Linked DNA regions of Homo sapiens: region 1 is linked to region 2. A link means that fine-mapping ties the variant in region 2 to the expression of a gene that starts in the linked region. Tissue or cell type: whole blood. Region 2 holds a variant in brackets; the other region holds the start of a gene. All regions are shown on one strand. Distances are between the middles of the regions.

Region 1 (5,109 bases), 240 kb after region 2:
TGGTAAAATAACCATGTTTCTTAAACAATGTCAGCTCCCCAGGCTATTTTTTAGGCATTATTAGGGCAGTCATTTCTTTTTTTCTCCAAAGTACCTGTCCATAAGACGGATAGAACCATTTGGTCCTACTTCTCAAGGTAATACTAGAAATGGTTCAAAAAAGTGCCAGAACATGATGGTTATATCACAGTTTTCACCCAACAATAGCAGGCTGTATCCCAGTATCTCCTTGAAAGGTCAGATGACAAAAACCATTAGGTTTTGACGATCATTTGCCCAGCCCTATCTGTCCTGTACTTCAATGTATACATTTTCATGTGCAGATTTCATTACTCCTTTCCCCCAGTGCTTCTCATCGCATTCATCCCCGGGGTTCCAGCAGCTGAATCTCTGCAGTGACTCAGCAGAGAGCCCCGGGAGGGGCGGCCAGAGCGGCAAATGGGGAGGCTTCCCCGCCGCTGCTCAGGGAAAGTGGGGGGTTAAAAAACGAGGCTATCGACCAACATACTCCACTCCTGGACACCCCCCTCCACACCCTCCTCCTCTTACTCCAAGAAAGCAAAGAGGCAACCTCTCAGGGGGCCATTTTTTGTCTTATTACCTCAGTAAAAATGCCCCCATGAACTTTTAGGATTTTTAGAAGTGAAGCAACCTAGCCGTCAGTAGGCAAAATGGGTTAAGCAAACATTTTTTGGCCAAAATCCCAACTATTTGATGAGCCATGAGCGGAGACAATAAGCAAACTCCAGTAACAAACTTTCCAAAAATTTCTGAGCCTTGATTTCTTCATCTTGTAAACAGAAAAACACACTCCCGTAATAATACCACCCAACCTGCCGCCCACCTGATGGCGTCGCCGCGAGACGAACCACTTTGAAAACCCGCGAAACCAAGGTGAACAATCCCTGCGCAACATGACAGTTTGGTCACATCGCCGTTCTCACTCGCGCTTGTTACTGAAATCTGAAAAATACTTAAGGCGGCTGACGGGCACTGCGAGTTCTAGTCACTGCGGTGACTCCCGCCACCGTGATACCTGGGTCTTGAAATCCTAAGCTGCACCGCGGCGATCTCGGCACTGCGATTATCCCGTTCTTGAAATCCTAAGGTGCGCCACGGAGACACCGGGGTTCTAAAAATCCTACATCGCACCAGGGCGATGCTGGGGCCTATCCTTTAAGTCGCACCAGAGCGATGCTGGGGTTCTAAAAATCCTACATCGCACCAGGGCTTTGCCGGGATCTATAAATCCTAAATCGCGCCACGGCAACGGCGGAGTCTAAGAATCCTGAATCGCACCAGAGGGAAGCCGGAGTCTAAATATCCTAAATCAAACCAGGGCGATGCTGGGGGTTAGAAATCCTAAATCATGCTGCAGCAATGACTGAGTATAAAAATCCTAAATCGCACCAGGGTGATGCCAGGATCTAAAAATCCCAATTCGCATCAGGGTGAGACCAGGGTCATTATGGATCCTAAGTCATATCAAGATGACGCTGGGGTCCAGAAATCCTAAATCTCACCACGACGATCCCGGGGTCTAGAAATCCTAACCCAAGGAGGTCCCGCGTTCTGAACATTCCATTGCGGGCAGGAGTGACACCCCCTCCTCAAGTAGGCAGAGCGGGCGCGGAATGCGTGCCGCCTGTCGGTAGAGTTTTCGCCCAGAGGCAGCCCCAGCTCGGACACGGGCACACAGTCCTCCGCTCGCCTGCGCCCTAGTCCCAGGGCCGCCAGCCACACCCCCTCGTTCCCACCGCACACTCACCTGCGGAGGCGATCTCGGCGCACCATGGCCGCGTTATCCCATGCCGCCCGCCGCAGCGTTGCAGAGCACCGGGCGCCGCAGAGCCCGCAGCCGTGCAGAGCTGGCCAGCAGCGGGGGCGCAGCCCGCAGCCCACAGCCCGCGCAGGGCGGCGCCGCGCCGGGCAGCTACAGCCACTCCGGCGTGCGCTGCGGCACTGCGCTTGCGAGGCGCAGCTGCCGCAGAGGAGGTGCCGGGGTGTGCTGGTTGCCGCGGCAGCGCGGAGCGAGTGGGCACCGACTTTTAGAGCCCACCCGCGCCCCGCCCCTAGCCCGCCCATCGCCGCAGAACCCCTACCGCCTGCTCCCTTGCTCGCCGCAGAGCCCCTCCCAGCCGCTCTACCACCGCCATGGCCACAAAGATGGGGTGCCCCTCTAACAGTGGCTCCTTTAGGGGGCACCTTCAGGGGTGTCGAGCCCCCTCCCCAAGACCCCGCTGCTCCCTCGTTAACCGCCAACCCTGAGCCCGAGATTCTGCTGCAGAAACCCTCCCCTGATGAGTTAAGGCCACGGGCAAAAACAGCAGACCCCTGAGTGCCCCAACTCTTTCCTTAGACCACCCACAAACCCCACAGGCCGCCCACAAACCCCACAGGCTGCCCACAAGCCCCACAGGAGGATGGCCGCTCGAACTAAGGGGCAGCAGGGCTCTGGGGTGCCGGCCGTGGCGCCTGCTCCCATCCCTCGTTCGAAGCGTGGGTACTGAACCGTGAGAGGTGGCGAGCCACGAGGGCCCTATGCGCCCTAAGCTTAACTACCGGTAACCACCAAGGGCACGAGCAAGCGGCTAGGGAGCAACAAGCTCTGTTGGACCCACCACCAAGCTAGTAAACAGATTCATGGGATGGCCACTATGGCCAAAGTTGCACAAAGTCCGGTTTCTCCCGCTCCAGCCACCGCCGCTGCGCGGGGCAGGTTTCCTTTACAGCAGCGCGACGTGGTCAGCATGCCAGACGCCTGGCCACAGCAGCGCCCTCGCAGCCCCGCTCGCTGCATGCGCCGGTCCGCGCTGCACAGAACAGTGGGCACAATTAGGAGAGCAAAGCCCCCTTTATTTACGTAAGATAGAATCACAATGCAAGGGCCCAGAGGCACAAGAAAGAGGGAGGAATTTTTCTAATCCATAATCCTTTAAAAGGCATCCCTTACGCCTTTGAAAAGTGTAGAGTATCACGAAGTGTCTGTGTTCATTTTCTGACCGTAAACTGAAATACTGGTGAACAAACGTGGGGTGCGAGCGGGTGAGCGGGGCGGCCGGCCGGTGCCCGCTGCATCCAGAGGGGGCGCTGCAGGCCTCCCTTCGGCTGCGCACGGCCCGGGCCCTCCGCGGCTCTGCAACTCTGCACCCCGAAAGGTTCGGTGCTGGACCGCGGGGCATCCAACCCGGGACCGGGGGCGACCCACGGACACTGAGGAAACTACCGCCTATAAGCCTATCATCAGAACCTCTGGCACAACACAGGTACACTTCTGCAGGGGTCTGGTTGCCCCCAGAAAAAGCACTCATGAAACAAATGCTGATTTAGCACCTACAGGGCACTAAGAACCGGGGGTGCGAAATAAATGAGAAATAGCCCCGGCCCGAAAACAACACACGGGCCATCTGGAGGGGAAGACAGACAAGAACTGCCACTTTGTAAAATTTTCCTTTTAATTTCCTAGCGACGTTTGTGGCAGTTGACCCACTCCTCCCTAACGTGTAAGGCCCTCAGAGGCAGAGCCCAAGTATTATTCACCTTTTGTAGCCCCAGAGCCCGCCACGGTGCCGGCCACAAAGCTGGCCCCTAATAAATACTGCTTGAATGAGTACAAGAATTTGAGGGCGCACAGGGGAGGAAGTAATTAAGGGGAGGGGCGAAGGGTGGTCTTGAATGATGAATAGACATTTACCAGAGAGACAAAGAACATTCCAGCCGGAGGGGACGGCTTTCGCAAAGCACCGGAGGCTCAGGGCCGCGTGTTTGGGGAAAACGGTTAGTCCTTTGAGCCGGCAAAAAATTAGGATAGCAAGAGAATTTCATCGTAGGGAATTAGGAATTTGTTCTAGAGAAAATGAGAAGCCACAGATGGATTTAAACTCTTTATGGCCTTAATTGGTTACTTAACAAAATTTAAATTAGTCTCTTTACAAGTCAAAGATTACCTATTTTAACTACCACTACCTTTTAAAGACTGAATTACTCTGCAAAATCTAAATCGGTTCTTCCAAAAAGGTAAAGGCTTTCCTATTTTAATAATAACAATAACAAAAGCCTTTGCATTATATATTTTTCATATTTATTGTTAATGGAAACTTTGAGTCCTACAAACAAATTCCACACTTTCATTCTCACCAGGCCAGAAACACCAGCATCCAAGATGAAGGCAATTTTCTGTTTATGGACTGAGTACCCCACAAAAGATCTTATTCTGAAGGCCATGGAACATGTCTACCCACATGGATCAAGTGGGCAGACTGGAGGAGAAACAGTTTAAAGGCCCTGGGGGAAGGAGGGAGCGCCAGGGAGAGCTCCTGAAGACAACAGGAATTCCAAGTCTGGCACTCGGGAGAAATCCTCCCTTCAGACATTATTGATGTCTGGCCGAGGAGTTAGGAAAAACTTCCTTGAAGGAGGGATTGAGGTTGAGATGGGCATGGAACCCAGATCTTAGGCAGAGAAAGCATATTCCTGTTTGGAAGAACCCTGAGTACAGAAGTCAGCTCAAAGATATCAGCTTGGCCCAACCAGGAATTCGCTGTGGGAAGTCTAAGAGAGAAAATGCTGGCCATAATCCCCCAGGAGCCAAAGAGTTAACGAATCTTCTAAATGTGCCTGATTTACTTCCAGAAAGGAGCTTCCTCCGCAGGGGGAGAATTTGACCCAAGGTATAAAACACTTGGAGCCCTGAGAAAACACACAGCCACACATAAATTCAAAGTCGGCTCTGGCTTGCTCGAAGTTGCACCCTTTCAGTTCCTCTGGACAGATGCTATCCTGGACTGTGCAGGATATCTCATGCAGTAGTACTCCCTCAGCCAGTGGCTTATCACACATTCTTGTCACATTCCAAGTCTAACACAGTTCCGCCTCATGATAAGACCTCAGATCTGTGCAAAAATTCATGTAGAAAGCTCTGCATTTATTATCTCGCTGATTCACAACAGTGGTATGGGATCAGCAGAGATGGTACCACAGATTCAAGAACCATATTTTTCTAACCCCAGTTTGAGACCCATAATATGACAAGTGCAGGATATTTATGGAGACAACAAGACACAACCGGGACTGCCACTTTCAAGAGCCATCATTGTAGATTCAAATCAA
Region 2 (5,203 bases):
TTTGAGGAAGGAGTAGCAAGGTGATAGCTATTATGAAATAGGAGGAACTTTCTCCTCTGACCATATAGTCCCTCCAAGTTATATCCTCAGGGCCCCTTTCCCGATAAGAAGGAATCAGACATCAACAGTATTTGTTTTTTCTATATGTGTCTCTGCTGCTGTGGATGAAATCACTGACCACTCTGCTTGTGTATGTATGAATGTGTATATATGTGACCCTTTCTTTAGAGATGAGGCTGAAAGGCATTTCCTGCCCTGGGAGATCCCCTCTGGCCCCCTCCTGAATATTTTGCAATAGTCCATCACTGACACTTGGGGAAGATGCTGTAATCTCATAGGACCCTAACGGGCATCTGGTTAAACAAATTGCTTTCCCCTATTTTGCAGATGAGGATACTGAAGACTAGATAAGCTCAAAGTCATATGCTAGGTTGCTGGGAAGAGCCATGACTAGAACTTAGGTGTCTGGCCTGCTAAGTGACTCTTTCCCTCACACTTGATTACCCCCATCTCTTCCTCCTCTCTGGGATCTTAGTCCCTCCCTCGCTCCCTATTCTGTATTGCTTCTGTGTACCTTCACATGTTGATTGAACCCTTTGCCTATTGTGTTTGACCCAAAAGCCCTTTTCTTAACTGGTTACGTTCCCTCCCTTCACACCATGTGGACATAAAGTGAGAATGACTTTTTGGCATCCTAGGAGAGACTTTCTCTTTGGACCTGCTAGGTTAATTTTCAGTGTGAATTCCCTTCTTTTTCTGGTCCTGGGCATTCCAGCATCCTCAAGAGAGTGAATGATACAAACATGACATTGGGACTGTACTAAGTGCTCCTACACTAAGTGAGGGAGGGGTCCTTAGAAAGGACCAAAAGAGTATGGCCTATGACCCTGAAGAGGTTCAGTATTTCCTAATGAAGGCTAAGCAGGGAAGGTGGGGCTGTTGAGTTACATGTGGGAGGAGAAGGCCCCCCACTGTGAAAGTGATTTTTGGTAGTGGAAGGAGTCTTCTCTTTGCTCTGTTTGTCTCTTCAGCTAGGGCTGGATAGCTAGGGCATTGGGGGTCCTATTGAAGACTACTGTTTCCTCTTTGTCCTTTTCAGTTGAAGATCTGCCATTGGGTAAGTGGACCAAGGAAGCCAACAGGAATTTCCACTAACCATTCTGAAATTGGTTTCAAGAAAGCTTGGCTTTTCCAATCACCTGTTGATAAATAACTTTTGATTCTCAAGCTCCCAAATAGTGTCCTTATTTGGGTTCTTGTACACTAGGGACTTTTATCTGGAGATGGCCTCTGACAATCTCAATGTGACATGTCTTTCATTGGTAAAACTGACTCCTCCCAGGTCTTGAGGTGGTGGGGAAGGAGATACTCAGCACATACATGGGAGTAGCCAGATAAAGGTTTTTAGGTAGGTCTTTCTTAGTCTGAGTATTGTTGTTACCTTTTTCACTCCAGCAACCAGAGAGTTCTCAAGGAGTAGTTAGTGAAATGCCATGAAAAAGGCTTCCTAATTTTATTGGTGTTTCTTTGGTTTCTTTTTGTTAATCAGATGTACTCACTCAATGAGTGAGTACATATGGGGGTTGGTTGGGGTCAGACTGAACCTCTGAGCCATTGCCCCATCCCTGCCATCCACAGTTCGGATGTAGGAATGACCTAGTAGCAGAAACTATTCATACACCTCTTCCTGAAATATGGGTTGGAGGCTGGGAATGAGTTCTAGATCAGACCTTGGTTGTGAGGGAGTTGAATCCCCTGCTTCTGCTGGGAGGATGTGAAGAATACAGGCTTTGTCCCCACCCATGGAGGCAAGAATATGTCATTTGTCCCTATTTCCCTGTTCTTCTCCAAGCAGGGAACCATTCTGGAATATCATTTTTGACCCCCATCTCTACCTCTACACACTTCTCCCCAAAGGAGAAATGATTGTATTCTCTGATGGAGACATGGGGGGGGGGGGTCATTGTACACGCACACTCTTAAGTTCTCTCTTTTGCACCTCCCTGCCTGCAGTGTGCATGCACTTCACTCAGATCCTGCTTCCATAGGGTAAACACACCTGCTGAGCCCCAGACCTGCCTTCTAGAGGCAGGTTTGAAGAACACCTCTCTCTCTTTCTACTTTTGGGGCAGCTCTGTTCCTTGCTGCTATCCAGGTAAGTATTTCCACTGTATGTTTTTCTTTGGGTAGTCCAGATCCAAGACCAGGAATTAGGAGGAGTAGGGGAGACAGTGTATTAGAAAGCTCAGTTTTGACCATGATACAGCTTAATCAGCAAAGTAACAGTTGACCCTTGAGCAACATGAGTTTGAACTGCACAAGTCCACTTATGTGCAGATTTTTTTCAACCAAACACAGTTCAAAAATAGAGTATTTGTGGGATGCAGAGCCTGCTCATATGCTGTTCTCTACACATATACAAAAAGTCACATGCGAATAGAGTATGAAACTCTTCATATACATGGGTTTCACAGGGCCAGTTGGGCCTGGGTATGCGTGGATTTTGGTATACACAGGGATCCTGGAACCAATCCCCAGTGTATACTGAGGGATGACTGTACTGATATTTTGACCCTCATTAGTCTGATTCTTGTATTTATTATTCATTTGGCTGATAACATAGAGGGGAAAGAGGTAGAATTAATTTTCTCCCTTAAGC[C/A]CCACCACATTGAGATGTGCCTTGCCTGTTAAATCTTGAGAAATAGGCACTTCACCTGGAATTAGGGAATCAAAATAAGATGTGTGGAGATTGGATGTCTGTAATGCCAGAGTACAGGGCTTTAATGCTTTAATGATCTTCAGCCTTTCAGTTCTTTAGTCATTTCAAATCTTAGCAGCCTATGATCGCAAGTGTCCTCACACAAGCCACTAATTTATTAGAGTCACTGAGCATAGACTTTGGCAAAAGTGAGCTGTACAGAACACTGTGGCTGATTTTGATTCACATAGATGTAACTGAGACAGGATCACTGCAGAAAGGGAAGGCGCTATTCAATAGATCAATTTGTGCTGCCTTTATGCTCAGCCAGAATTGCAGTTGAGGATTCTAAGGTCAGTGGCATAAGTTCCATGTATATGTAAGAGCACAGGTTAGGGACATTCTAGCTCTTAAATTATTCTGGGAAGTATCAGGTGGTATCAGATCAGTTTCCCCATTATCTGGATTTGAAATGCACCCTTTAATAGGGCTAAGGAGAGGCCAATGGGAGGCTCCAAATCCTTTAATTCATATGGGATATCCAGAATCACCTTCTATTTATATTCCAAGTTGGTGCCAGATGTGTTTACTATATAAGCCCTGACAGTGGAATTTCAAGGCCTCAGCTGAATTTCTTGTGTGTTCAACCACAGAGAAATGGTGGATTTTATCACAAATACATAAAGAGGAATGGAAGTTTTTGTTATATAGGGGTTTGAGGAAGAGAAAAGCATTGTATACCATAATCCCAAAGGCAGGAAAAGTATTAAAAAGGCTTTTGCCTGAATCCTTCTCTCCCTAGGAATCAGGGTCTATTCAGGAAATAAAATGGGAGCCATATTTGTTTCAAATATATATATTTAAATCTTGAAATCAAAATAGAAGCAGTACAAGGGTGAAAACTGAAGAAAGGATGATGGTTTGATTAAGCTGAAAGAAGAGAAGGATTTATTTAGAAGAAAGGTTGTGTTTTCAGAGGACAGTATTGATGATGTGAAAAGAAAAATAAGAAAGACCAGTAGCCAACAATCTTAAACATGGAATTATAAAGGAGAGTGGCATTTTAATTATTAGTAGGTTAGAGGAGGTGATTAGAACCCTAAGAGATCTAACAAAAGAATGGACGCAAGCTTTACATGAATGTCTGTCTTCACTCAGGATCTCAGGCCCAAGAAAATATTGAGAGATACCTGTTTAAATTTGCAGAGAAAGCACTGGGAAATCATCCCTATCACTGAGATAGGTATAGTAGATGATTACAGAAAATGTAAACAATACTTCCAAGTATTTTTAGCTTAGTTTCAGTGATATTACCATTGTCAGTGGGAATATAGATGGTTGCTTGGAGAACGTACAGAAAGAAGTAAGTCTTTAGAAAGTGTGGGAAGATGAGACACATGAAATATATCAAAGTTATTGATCAAATTAATAGAAATTAGGAAGCAAAAAGGCATAACCGTCTCAATAGTTTCATTGTTAAAAATCAACAATGATTTGTGATTTAATTTAAAAATACCTTAGTAAACTAGTAACAAAAGATAATTTCTTAAGTTGATAAAAGGTATCTGCCAAAAGCCTACTATAAAAATCAAACTTAAATGTTGAAAGATTGCAAGCATTCCTATCGGCCACATGGTAAGATACAAAGAAAGTCTAGACAAACTTCAGGCAGGTAATCACATAAAAATACAACAAAAATATCATTAAAAATCCATAAATTGAGAAATCCGTAAAAGGAAGCCTCTACGTAAGTCAGACAGAAGGGGAAATTGCAGAAATTTGGAGCTGAATGAAAACAAAAAGCACTATATAGCAAGCAAAAAACACTAGGGGAGGAAATGTAATTTATAGCCTTAAATATTTTATTCAAAAAAGAGAAAGGTTGAATGAAGGTGAATGAACTAAGCTTTCAACTCCAGAAGAAAAGGAAAACATTTAAATATTACAATGGTTGTGGCCTCCAAAACAGCATACTACATAAATAGATATACACTATATGTGTGGTTTAAGATTTCATAGGGATGTGGGGAACGGGGAGTGATTAGGAAAAAAAAATCTGAAACCAATTCTGGAGGGGTGATAATAAAAAAAGAATGAAAAATATTATCATTAATAAAGCAGAAATTAATGAAACAAGAAAAAATAGGTAGCTTTGAGCAAAACTCTTTTAAAAGGTGAATAACAGTAGGTTTCTTTGGCAAATATAAATTTCTTAAAAAGAGAAGTCAGGGTCGGGTGCAGTGGCTCACGCCTGTAATTCCAAAACTTTGGAGGCCAAGGTGGGAGGGTCATTTGAGCCCAGGAGTTCAAGAAGCATGGCAAAGCCCTGTCTCTACCAAAGAAAAAAAAAAAAAAAAAAAAATTAGCTGAGTGCGTGGTATGCACATGTAGTCCCAGCTACTCAGGAGGCTGAAGCTGAAGAATTGCTTGAGCCGGGGAGGCCGAGGCTGCACTGTGATTGTGTCACTGCACTTCAGCCTGGGCAACAGAGTGAGGCCCTGTCTC

Evidence for each region. PIP is the estimated chance that this variant, and not a neighbour inherited with it, causes the effect.
Region 1: MEST starts here. The variant in region 2 is fine-mapped to the expression of MEST in whole blood (TOPMed, PIP above 0.99).

Annotation. Positions count from the first base shown.
Region 1 is chr7:130,488,999-130,494,107 of GRCh38, reverse strand. MEST (mesoderm specific transcript) reads right to left here and starts at 2,023. Exons shown (of 12, transcript NM_002402.4): 1 at 1,769-2,023. The coding sequence starts at 1,794. It overlaps MESTIT1 (MEST intronic transcript 1, antisense RNA), which reads left to right and starts at 3,131. Exons shown (of 2, transcript NR_004382.2): 1 at 3,131-3,266; 2 at 4,141-5,109. RefSeq lists a silencer at 2,986-3,195.
Region 2 is chr7:130,726,730-130,731,932 of GRCh38, reverse strand. It overlaps KLF14 (KLF transcription factor 14), which reads left to right. Exons shown (of 1, transcript NM_138693.4): 1 at 1-1,236. Among named protein-coding and RNA genes, the nearest start is that of KLF14, 4.9 kb to the left of the region's middle. The variant C/A (reference allele first, on the strand shown) is at 2,660.